Regions from separate parts of the Homo sapiens genome. Here region 2 is linked to region 1. The links come from fine-mapping of genetic effects on gene expression. A gene starts in region 1. The other region holds a variant in brackets. All regions are shown on one strand. Distances are from middle to middle.

Region 1 (5,368 bases):
TCCCTCTCCCTCCGACTCCCTTCACTCTTCTCCATCTGGGATTCGAGGACATGATGAAAAGTTATTTCACCTAATGGGATTTTAAGAAAGCTTTTGTTGGGAATATATGTTATCCCTGCACGTGGAAATGAGCAAACGTGCTCACCAGTTTCCTAAGGAAAGGATAACGCTTTCACCCCGCTTGGGACTGGAGCCAGTTGGTGTGTGAGGATTAGCATGCTCCCTCTCTGCTACATTTCAGGGCATCCCATCTTTTCTCAGGCGAGATGCTGCTGGTAAACTTCAGTTTGTTTATTAATTGAGTTAGTTTCTTCCTGGCTTTACTTTGGTGTCTTGGATATTGTGTAAAGGCAAGAGGTATTTTTTTTAAATGTTTTTCAAAAGATTATTTGATTCAATGGAATGATGCTATGGTTTGCAAAGGGAGATTGAGGAAGGTTCAGAAAAGGTACTGAGATTGTTTATTACAGCCATAAATCTTGCAGTAAAATGTCAAAATGTCGGTGTTGAGATAACACTTGGTGGTCCTGGCTCCGTTTGTGTTTATGATACGAACCACAAAGACAAGTTACAGGCCTTGGGGGATTCTGTGTAAGGCCATCTTCCTAAAGTAATAGAATCACACAAAACACAGGCACAGCTAACTCGTTTGGGTTAACCGTATACAAAACAGTGTTTATGTCTCGTTAATACTTAAAAATAGAAACTTGGTACAAGGTTCTGAGGCTAAACAACAGAATTTTGTGTTTTAGTGTCTGTAAATATTAAACAGATATGGTTAAGACCCTAGTACTCAAGGCTGATGACATGAGAAGGAGGGAAGATTTCCTTGTCATGCTTTTTGTCCCCCTGAAACTTATAGGGTTCAGATTTGTAATACGTATGTCTATATATTATTTATATTACATTTTATATAACCTATGTGTATATTATTTTTTCTTGCTAGGGAGAGATATTGGTTCAGGTAGATGTATCACATTCTAAATTTTTCCTCCAGTCTAGAGAGGATGGCTAAAGATTACACTCAGTGTTGATTTCTGTCTGTGGCTCAAATTTCTTTAAAAACAAATTTTCAGGGTGCCTCATGTGAATGGACAGCACTCTTCACACTCATATACACCTAACGTGGAAAATCTCTTTGTACCTCTTCAGGGTGATTCCAGTTAGAAAGCTAATATGATCCCCTTTTTAACCTCTTTTCCTAAATTAGTTTAAAGATTAGTCCCATATAATAGGCTTTATGTGGCTAAGCATTAAGTGACTATCCATCAAATGGATATATTCCAGCATTTAGTAACTCATATGAGTAACCAGTATGAATGAAGATAGAATTGACATTCCTTTTCAAGTGTCTCCAGGCTTAGGAAATAATTTTCCTTGTCTGCGTTCCAGACTCAGTTGTGAGAAGGCTGTTTATACTGCTCTTTGAAAAATCAACTAAGGTGCACCAGCTGAAAAATCCTTGCTTTTGCATGCCAATATGAAAATATTTTTAGAATGGTGACTATGCTAGTTTACACTGCTTTAATTTAGGCTGAAAAGTAGAGGATCTAGATATGTCTACTACTCAGAAAAGAAAGGGAGAAAGCACACAGCACAAATAAGGCATCAGTATTTACTTCAAAGATCAACATTAGGTGGAATTAATAAGTAATTTATTTGTTAATAATGGCGTAATTAGTGTACCCATCAAATTTCAATTACCAAATAGCAGGCAACAGTCTCCTCTCCCTCCTTTCCGGAGCTTCTGATATCGTTAATACGCTAATTTTCAGCAATTCAGAAATTATAGACTGTCCTGCAAATATAACTCTAGCCTCAGATACTGCCTGAGAAAGCAGGATCTAAAAGAGAAAACATGAAATTCTTAGCTGGAAAAGACCCATCAGCGATCAGACCCGGCAAGGTGTTTATTCTACCCTTAGCTTGTTTTTGTTTGGGGATAGTTCTGAAATAGGAAGTTATTGTTTTCAAAGCTCGGTTCTGTGGAGGTGTTGCTTCTATCCATTCCCATCCTTGGGCCACCTTCTCTCTCACAATCGCACCTAGTAAATGCGGGCATATTTAGCTCTCACATCGACAACCCCCGTCAAATTAGATGCTATTACGAAGGTTCCAATTTTTCTTAGGAAAACACGAAACAGATTGTCTCTGAAAGAAGGAAAAAATGAAAAGTGTCCATCCAGTTATAATGGAATGGCCTCGATTTACATCCTTGGGTCGATTTCTCTTAGCTGCCCGCCCACCCTTTGCAGCTTCTGCCAAGCTTCTCAAAGCAAGGGCTCTCAGGCTGACACGCAAGGAGCAGGGTGTGGGGAAGGGGGATCTGCGGTTGAGAAAATGTGTCTGGTGGCCTCTCAGTGGCGTACATAAAAACCAGGATGCCCCTCGGTCCCAACGCCCTTCCTTTCGCCTGTTAGCCTAGAACCCCTGAAGGACACGAAGCCTGACTGGGTTGCGCCCGAGGTCAGCGCTGAGTCGCGGCCGCCAGACAGCCCGAGGCCTAGGCCAGCAGTAGGGCAGGCAGAGGGCTCCCGAGAGGACCTACAGCCTGACAGGGCCTGAATTCCCAGCGGGAACCAAAGCTGGGGGGCTGGGGTCCAAAGCTCCTGCTCCCTCCCCCAGCCCAGGGGCCGGACAGCAGCATCCATCACGCACCCGCGCGTTTCCTGATCCGGGTCCGCGCGCGCGGTGCGCCCATTGGTGGGGGCGCTGCACGTGGGGCACGGGGCGGGGCGCGCGCTGGGCTGGGGAGGAGCGGCTCGAACTTTGGTGGCGGCGTCTGCGGGAGGGGGAGGAGTGGGCACTTGACAGCGGGGGGAGGGGAAGGGCGCAGAGGAAAGGGGGATGGGAAGCGAGGCAGGAGGGGGAGGGGCCTCGGCAAGCCCAGAAAAAACGACAACGCGAGAAAAATTAGTATTTTTGCACTTCACAAATTAATGACCATGAGCTCGTTTTTGATAAACTCCAACTACATCGAGCCCAAGTTCCCTCCCTTCGAGGAGTACGCGCAGCACAGCGGCTCGGGCGGCGCAGACGGCGGCCCGGGCGGGGGCCCCGGCTACCAGCAGCCCCCAGCGCCCCCGACCCAGCACCTGCCGCTGCAGCAGCCCCAGCTCCCTCACGCGGGCGGCGGCCGAGAGCCCACTGCCTCCTACTACGCGCCGCGGACCGCCCGCGAGCCCGCCTACCCTGCTGCCGCGCTGTACCCCGCGCATGGGGCCGCGGACACCGCCTACCCCTATGGCTACCGCGGCGGCGCCAGCCCCGGGCGGCCGCCCCAGCCCGAGCAGCCCCCGGCGCAAGCCAAGGGCCCAGCGCACGGCCTGCATGCGAGCCACGTCCTGCAGCCCCAGCTGCCGCCGCCCCTGCAGCCTCGCGCCGTGCCCCCAGCGGCCCCGCGGCGCTGCGAGGCGGCCCCCGCCACCCCAGGCGTCCCGGCAGGGGGCAGCGCCCCCGCGTGCCCGCTGCTCTTGGCCGACAAGAGCCCGCTGGGCCTGAAGGGCAAGGAGCCCGTGGTGTACCCCTGGATGAAGAAGATCCATGTCAGCGCCGGTACGTGGCGCCGCTTGGGAGGCGCGGGAGGTGGGCCGGGGCTGGGCCTGGGTTCGAGGGTCGGGGTCAGGAGGGAGAGGCTCAGGGGAAGGGGGCCTCGGGAGGGGAGCCCCCATCTGACCCGGGCTGCGGTGAGATGTGGGTATGTGCGCGCCAGCCAGCCGCCTGATCCCAACATGAGAACCCTTTTGTACCCAGGGTCCCTTTATCAGGAGATTTACGAGACGCCAAACTGTTAGGGCAGTAATTATAGCCCCCATAAATTTAATTGCCCTGGCAGAGGCTTCAGGCCATGTGTCTTTGAAGCTTTTCTTCAGCCCCAATGCCCAGCACCATTCTTTATGGCTCTCGGGTGTTTCCCGTTGTCAATAGCCTGTGAAACATTTTCTTTGCCGTTTTATGTATCTTGCGTGAACTTGGTGTCAGGTTATTATATAATGATGATGTCCAATTGCTCTTCCCCACCCCACCTTCTCTCTCCTCCTCCTTTCCCTCTCTTCCGCTCCCTCCTCCTTGGCCTTCTATTTCGGGGTTCTGGGTTTTCAGTTAACCCCAGTTATAACGGAGGGGAGCCTAAGCGCTCTCGAACCGCCTACACCCGGCAGCAGGTCTTGGAGCTGGAGAAGGAGTTCCACTTCAATCGATACCTGACCCGGCGGCGCCGCATCGAGATCGCCCACACGCTCTGTTTGTCTGAGCGCCAGGTCAAGATCTGGTTTCAGAACCGGAGGATGAAGTGGAAGAAAGACCACAAACTGCCCAACACCAAGATGCGATCCTCCAATTCGGCCTCGGCCTCTGCCGGCCCACCAGGGAAAGCACAAACTCAGAGCCCACACCTCCATCCCCACCCCCACCCGAGCACCTCCACACCCGTTCCCTCCTCCATATAATCTTCTAGAGATCTTAACCAGTTTCTATCCCTTACCTGCTTTTCTCTTCTCTTCTCCTGCTCCGTTCCTCATCCACCCCTCCCCATCTGGACCATAATAGACACCAAAACAAACCCAAATTGGTGAAAAGAATAATCAAAAAGAAGACATTATCCGGTTAAGAGTCTGTGCTGGTTGCCACCCAAGAGAGAACAGTTGTCCAGGATGCTGGCTGGTGGAACAACCTGCTGGCCCGAAACAAGGCTGCCAGGTGTGGATACCTGAGAAGGACTACTTGGTATCAAATACTTTTGAGATGGCTACAGTCAGCTAGCTGGACAGCCCATGCTGAGTGGGGACATACACTTGCATCTTTGTTGAAAGCAGAAGAAGACAGACCCTTTCCCCACCTTCCTTACCTCCTCTTCCCCCATTAAGGCAGCTCATCCAAGCTTGTATTTAACTGAATAAATGAGTAGACATTGTGGACCTCACAAGATTATTTAATTCTTAAGATGTGTAGACCTTGATGGTAGGTGTGACATGTTAGTTTTTCTTACTTGCATTTATTTAAGACACTGTTACAGAGATACTGTTGTCCCCTTCTGGGGCACGGTCTTTGGGGAGAGGGGAGTGCATTTAGACTTATGTGGAACTGTACAAATTGTGATGTGGCTACATAGAAAGCCATGTGCTAAGAATAAACTCCATTTAAAAAACATTAAAAATCTAAGATTCATGTGTTTTCTAAGCTTTTCATTAAGAAAACAAAAGTCCTCTGGATTGAGATACTTGACCTTGCATGTAAAAACCTTGTAGATAGCTTGAGCTGGATTCACTTGGATTCTGACGGCTCACATAATTTGTGTGTGAGAGTGTGTGTATGTATGTTCAACTTGAGCTGAACTCTTGTCAAGCTTGGCCTACTGTGGAAAAGTTCC
Region 2 (5,368 bases), 32 kb before region 1:
ATTTTATGTGAGGGGCTCCGCTGGCCGCACTCGCACGCGGGACCCGCGCCTTCTTGATGGCGTGATTAATTGTGATATAAAATAGTCCGCTTAAGAAGTGTGTGTATGGGGGGGGAGACGGGAGAGTACAGAGACAAGGCTAGATTTGATCTTTTAATCGTCGTTGGCCACAATTAAAACAAACCCCATCGTAGAGCGGCACGATCCCTTTACATAAAAACATATGGCTTTTGCTATAAAAATTATGACTGCAAAACATCGGACCATTAATAGCGTGCGGAGTGATTTACGCGTTATTGTTCTGCTGGACGGGCACGTGACGCGCACGGCCAATGGGGGCGCGGGCGCCGGCAACTTATTAGGTGACTGTACTTCCCCCCCGGTGCCACCAAGTTGTTACATGAAATCTGCAGTTTCATAATTTCCGTGGGTCGGGCCGGGCGGGCCAGGCGCTGGGCACGGTGATGGCCACCACTGGGGCCCTGGGCAACTACTACGTGGACTCGTTCCTGCTGGGCGCCGACGCCGCGGATGAGCTGAGCGTTGGCCGCTATGCGCCGGGGACCCTGGGCCAGCCTCCCCGGCAGGCGGCGACGCTGGCCGAGCACCCCGACTTCAGCCCGTGCAGCTTCCAGTCCAAGGCGACGGTGTTTGGCGCCTCGTGGAACCCAGTGCACGCGGCGGGCGCCAACGCTGTACCCGCTGCGGTGTACCACCACCATCACCACCACCCCTACGTGCACCCCCAGGCGCCCGTGGCGGCGGCGGCGCCGGACGGCAGGTACATGCGCTCCTGGCTGGAGCCCACGCCCGGTGCGCTCTCCTTCGCGGGCTTGCCCTCCAGCCGGCCTTATGGCATTAAACCTGAACCGCTGTCGGCCAGAAGGGGTGACTGTCCCACGCTTGACACTCACACTTTGTCCCTGACTGACTATGCTTGTGGTTCTCCTCCAGTTGATAGAGAAAAACAACCCAGCGAAGGCGCCTTCTCTGAAAACAATGCTGAGAATGAGAGCGGCGGAGACAAGCCCCCCATCGATCCCAGTAAGTGTCTCCTCCCTTCAAATCCGCCGCCGCCTCCACGCCGGCCTCCCGGATCTGCTGGCCCGCCAGGTTTCTCTCGAGCCTGCCTTCGTCCTCGCTGGAAGCCTCTCGAGTTGGGGCCAGGAGCCAGAAGTTGGTGTTTGGGACGCCTCAGATAGGGCCCCAAGTCTGGAGAGCAGTGAAGAGCGGCCCGCAGGGCTACGGGAGAGGAGGCGGCTGCTGCAGCGAGAGGGGGCGGGGCGGGCACTTCGGGACGAGCCAAGACTGGCCGCCCCTCTCCTTGGCTGCCCAGGCCCAGGACCGAGATACTTTGGGCCGTTCTTCGAAAGCAGTGCAGCCCAGAGAGCCTTTTGTACAACTAGATTGTCCGTGAGCGGCGGCAGCCAGGGCAGCCGGAGCTGGGACGCTGGGGGAGACGGCCGATTCCTTCCACTTCTTGCCTTCGGCCAGTGGCGGCGTAAATCCTGCCAAGATGAGGCTGCGGGCGACCCGGGCCACAAGGGTCCCCATGACAGATTATTCAAATAAGCCACAGACGTGATCAGCGGCCTTAGGGCGCCCTGACGGCTTGCCCAGCTCCGAAGGCCTTCCAGGAAGGTTAAATAAGGAGTGGGGGGCGTAGAGGGACAGGTTGGGAAAGAAAGACGAAGTCAGTGAACGGGACAGAGGAATCCTAATCTTGCTACAGAACACAAGGCAGCATGCTTTCCCTCTGCGTGGCAAGGAGACCTGTTTCCAAATTTCATTCTATACAGCGTTTTGAGAGTGGGAGGAAGGAGAAGGGGGACAAGAGGACAGAGTAGGAGAAAGGAAGGTCTCGGAGGGGAGGGCGAGCCAAAGTTTTACTGCGTGCAATTTTAAGTGACTGTCTGTGCGTCTGTCTGCCAGGGTTCCATTGTGTCCGAGGCCTGACTGCCTTTCCTAACCAGTTCAGCAGAGTTCTGCACTTCGGCCAGAGACCCCATGCAGGAGGCTCATTTGCCCCAGCGGGATGTGCGTCTTCTGCTCCTAAACCCAGTGTTTCTCTTCCCCGCAGATAACCCAGCAGCCAACTGGCTTCATGCGCGCTCCACTCGGAAAAAGCGGTGCCCCTATACAAAACACCAGACCCTGGAACTGGAGAAAGAGTTTCTGTTCAACATGTACCTCACCAGGGACCGCAGGTACGAGGTGGCTCGACTGCTCAACCTCACCGAGAGGCAGGTCAAGATCTGGTTCCAGAACCGCAGGATGAAAATGAAGAAAATCAACAAAGACCGAGCAAAAGACGAGTGATGCCATTTGGGCTTATTTAGAAAAAAGGGTAAGCTAGAGAGAAAAAGAAAGAACTGTCCGTCCCCCTTCCGCCTTCTCCCTTCTCTCACCCCCACCCTAGCCTCCACCATCCCCGCACAAAGCGGCTCTAAACCTCAGGCCACATCTTTTCCAAGGCAAACCCTGTTCAGGCTGGCTCGTAGGCCTGCCGCTTTGATGGAGGAGGTATTGTAAGCTTTCCATTTTCTATAAGAAAAAGGAAAAGTTGAGGGGGGGGCATTAGTGCTGATAGCTGTGTGTGTTAGCTTGTATATATATTTTTAAAAATCTACCTGTTCCTGACTTAAAACAAAAGGAAAGAAACTACCTTTTTATAATGCACAACTGTTGATGGTAGGCTGTATAGTTTTTAGTCTGTGTAGTTAATTTAATTTGCAGTTTGTGCGGCAGATTGCTCTGCCAAGATACTTGAACACTGTGTTTTATTGTGGTAATTATGTTTTGTGATTCAAACTTCTGTGTACTGGGTGATGCACCCATTGTGATTGTGGAAGATAGAATTCAATTTGAACTCAGGTTGTTTATGAGGGGAAAAAAACAGTTGCATAGAGTATAGCTCTGTAGTGGAATATGTCTTCTGTATAACTAGGCTGTTAACCTATGATTGTAAAGTAGCTGTAAGAATTTCCCAGTGAAATAAAAAAAAATTTTAAGTGTTCTCGGGGATGCATAGATTCATCATTTTCTCCACCTTAAAAATGCGGGCATTTAAGTCTGTCCATTATCTATATAGTCCTGTCTTGTCTATTGTATATATAATCTATATGATTAAAGAAAATATGCATAATCAGACAAGCTTGAATATTGTTTTTGCACCAGACGAACAGTGAGGAAATTCGGAGCTATACATATGTGCAGAAGGTTACTACCTAGGGTTTATGCTTAATTTTAAT[T/C]GGAGGAAATGAATGCTGATTGTAACGGAGTTAATTTTATTGATAATAAATTATACACTATGAAACCGCCATTGGGCTACTGTAGATTTGTATCCTTGATGAATCTGGGGTTTCCATCAGACTGAACTTACACTGTATATTTTGCAATAGTTACCTCAAGGCCTACTGACCAAATTGTTGTGTTGAGATGATATTTAACTTTTTGCCAAATAAAATATATTGATTCTTTTCTATTTTTTGCGGGTCTGCTCTTTGCACCTTCTTCTCTGGGTCAGGGGAGCCTATGTAGAGTCTCTGGGTAGGGGCGGGTTGGGGTGGTGAGAAAGAGCCCCAATTTTGCCTCTGGCTGGCTTTCAGGAGCGGGACCTGCCACAACCAGTCCGCCGAGCTAAGCTCTCCCAAACAGGCCAGCTGCCTGGCGGCGAGAAAAAGCTGGGAAACCCGGCGGAGGAGCCAGGCTCCCGGCCTTGTGTCTATGTGCGGGACGGCGGAGAAGCCCCTGAGGAGCTGGTCTGGTCTGGCCAGTAGCAGTGGAAAGACCACTCTCACCTTGGTGCCCCCGAGAAAATTCCCAAACCTGGGCCTTCGTTAGCTTGGTGAGGAAAAGGGGGAGAGGGTGACAGGATAGAGAGCTGGGAGCCGCCTTCTAAGCAGGCTCTGAAGAGGGAAATAGGAGCCCCACCGGCCCAACGTGGCCATGCAGGCAAACATTTTGGGGGCTTGCAAAGGAACAAAGCCCTGCATCCTCGCACCGCCCGCCACCCCCGCGGAGTCCTGCCAGCCTGGCCCAAGAGAATCTGGGTCCTGCACTGCAAGCACCTCTCGAGCACAAGGCCTAACAGAGGCAGGGCTGAGGCAATTGACGAGCCCCTAAGCGCCATAAAAGAAAATGAGGGCTGTTACCGTTTATGGGGTGTAAAGGGCTACGAGGGGCGGGGGGGGGGGAACGGCCACAACTTCGGAGGCCTGAGCGCTTTCCAGATGTGGCCGGAGGGTTCGGCCTCGCTTCCACCCCCTTGCTTCCCTCGCCCGACCCCCTTCCCCCACTCCACGACTTCTGCAAAGTTGGATGTGTTCTAAGCTTAAAAGGGGAACCAGGGCGCGGGTGGATGAGGCGTCCCCTAACCCCCACCCCCACCCCGCCGCCAGGTTGGGACGCCCTCTGTTGTTGCAGACAGAAGGAACTTCAAAGAATAGGCAGTAAGAGTGTGCCATAAAGGCCGGGTCTGCGAACTGTCTGGAATTCGTCCCTTAATGAGTTTACAACTGTCCAGCCCCAATTAGGATATTCCACCAAAGCCCTTTCATTTGTTCATTTGTTCTGTCTGCCGCCGATAAAGCGGCTGCGGAAACACCTCTTTTATTGGCATTGCCTCCTCTGCAGTAGATTCCGGGCTCCACGCAGACTCCCCGGGACCTAGGCCCACGCCCCTCGTTTGGGAGTGGGGTGCGGTGGGCTAGCCGGCGGCTCCCAAAGCTCAGGCCGGCGGAGGTAGCTGAGGCTGCAGTACCAAACGGCGGCCAGCAGATGGCAGTGTGGCTCCATGCAAGAGGCTTCCGCGCCGCCATCTCCCGCCTCCGCGACCCTTGTGAAGTTCCTAAGATGTCGACTTGACACGAGCCTTTCTGGAATGGGAGCCCCAGATTTTAGTGAACAGCCGCCCTATATTTTCTGGGCTGCTCAAGCCTGGCTAGAAGCCTCGCTGGGAAACAAGGAATCGGCGGGGGCTTGCCCGACCCTCACCGCTCGCGCCTCCCTGACCCCATCCCGGGGGCCCAGTGCTGCCGGGCTGCAGCTGTCCGGGCGGCCGCGGGGCTGCAGCTCCAGGCGCGGGCGCGGCTCCAGGGTCACCGTCCTCAGCTGGGACAGGCCTGACACAGCCAGGCGCCAGAGAGCCCCGGCTGACTGGCGGACACAGGAGGAACGCCTGCAGCCCCAGAACTTGATGACCGCCCAGAGGGTGTGCACGGTGCGTGCCGAGGGCTCACACCGTGACCGCGGGGTCCGCGGCCGCCCAGGAGGCCCCCGAAACCTGCGACCTGGGTCAGGGCCCGGCGAGCCAGAACCCAAGACAGAGCCAGGACCCCGGGACTCGGCTGGCTTGAATCGAGACAAT

Evidence for each region. PIP is the estimated chance that this variant, and not a neighbour inherited with it, causes the effect.
Region 2: its variant is fine-mapped to the expression of HOXA4 in whole blood (INTERVAL, PIP above 0.99).

The regions. Positions count from the first base shown.
Region 1 is chr7:27,128,305-27,133,672 of GRCh38, reverse strand. It overlaps HOXA4 (homeobox A4), which reads left to right and starts at 2,916. Exons shown (of 2, transcript NM_002141.5): 1 at 2,916-3,555; 2 at 4,102-5,148. The coding sequence starts at 2,940. The coding sequence ends at 4,448. The region is part of intron 2 of HOXA3 (homeobox A3); the gene reads left to right. HOXA-AS2 (HOXA cluster antisense RNA 2) reads right to left here. Exons shown (of 4, transcript NR_122069.1): 4 at 4,913-5,368. RefSeq lists a silencer at 2,689-2,758.
Region 2 is chr7:27,160,554-27,165,921 of GRCh38, reverse strand. HOXA10-HOXA9 (HOXA10-HOXA9 readthrough) reads left to right here. Exons shown (of 3, transcript NM_001433944.1): 2 at 955-1,044; 3 at 2,081-3,484. The coding sequence ends at 2,319. HOXA9 (homeobox A9) reads left to right here and starts at 385. Exons shown (of 2, transcript NM_152739.4): 1 at 385-1,044; 2 at 2,081-3,484. The coding sequence starts at 465. The coding sequence ends at 2,319. RefSeq lists enhancers at 95-971, 972-1,849, 3,361-3,860, 4,735-5,368. The variant T/C (reference allele first, on the strand shown) is at 3,252.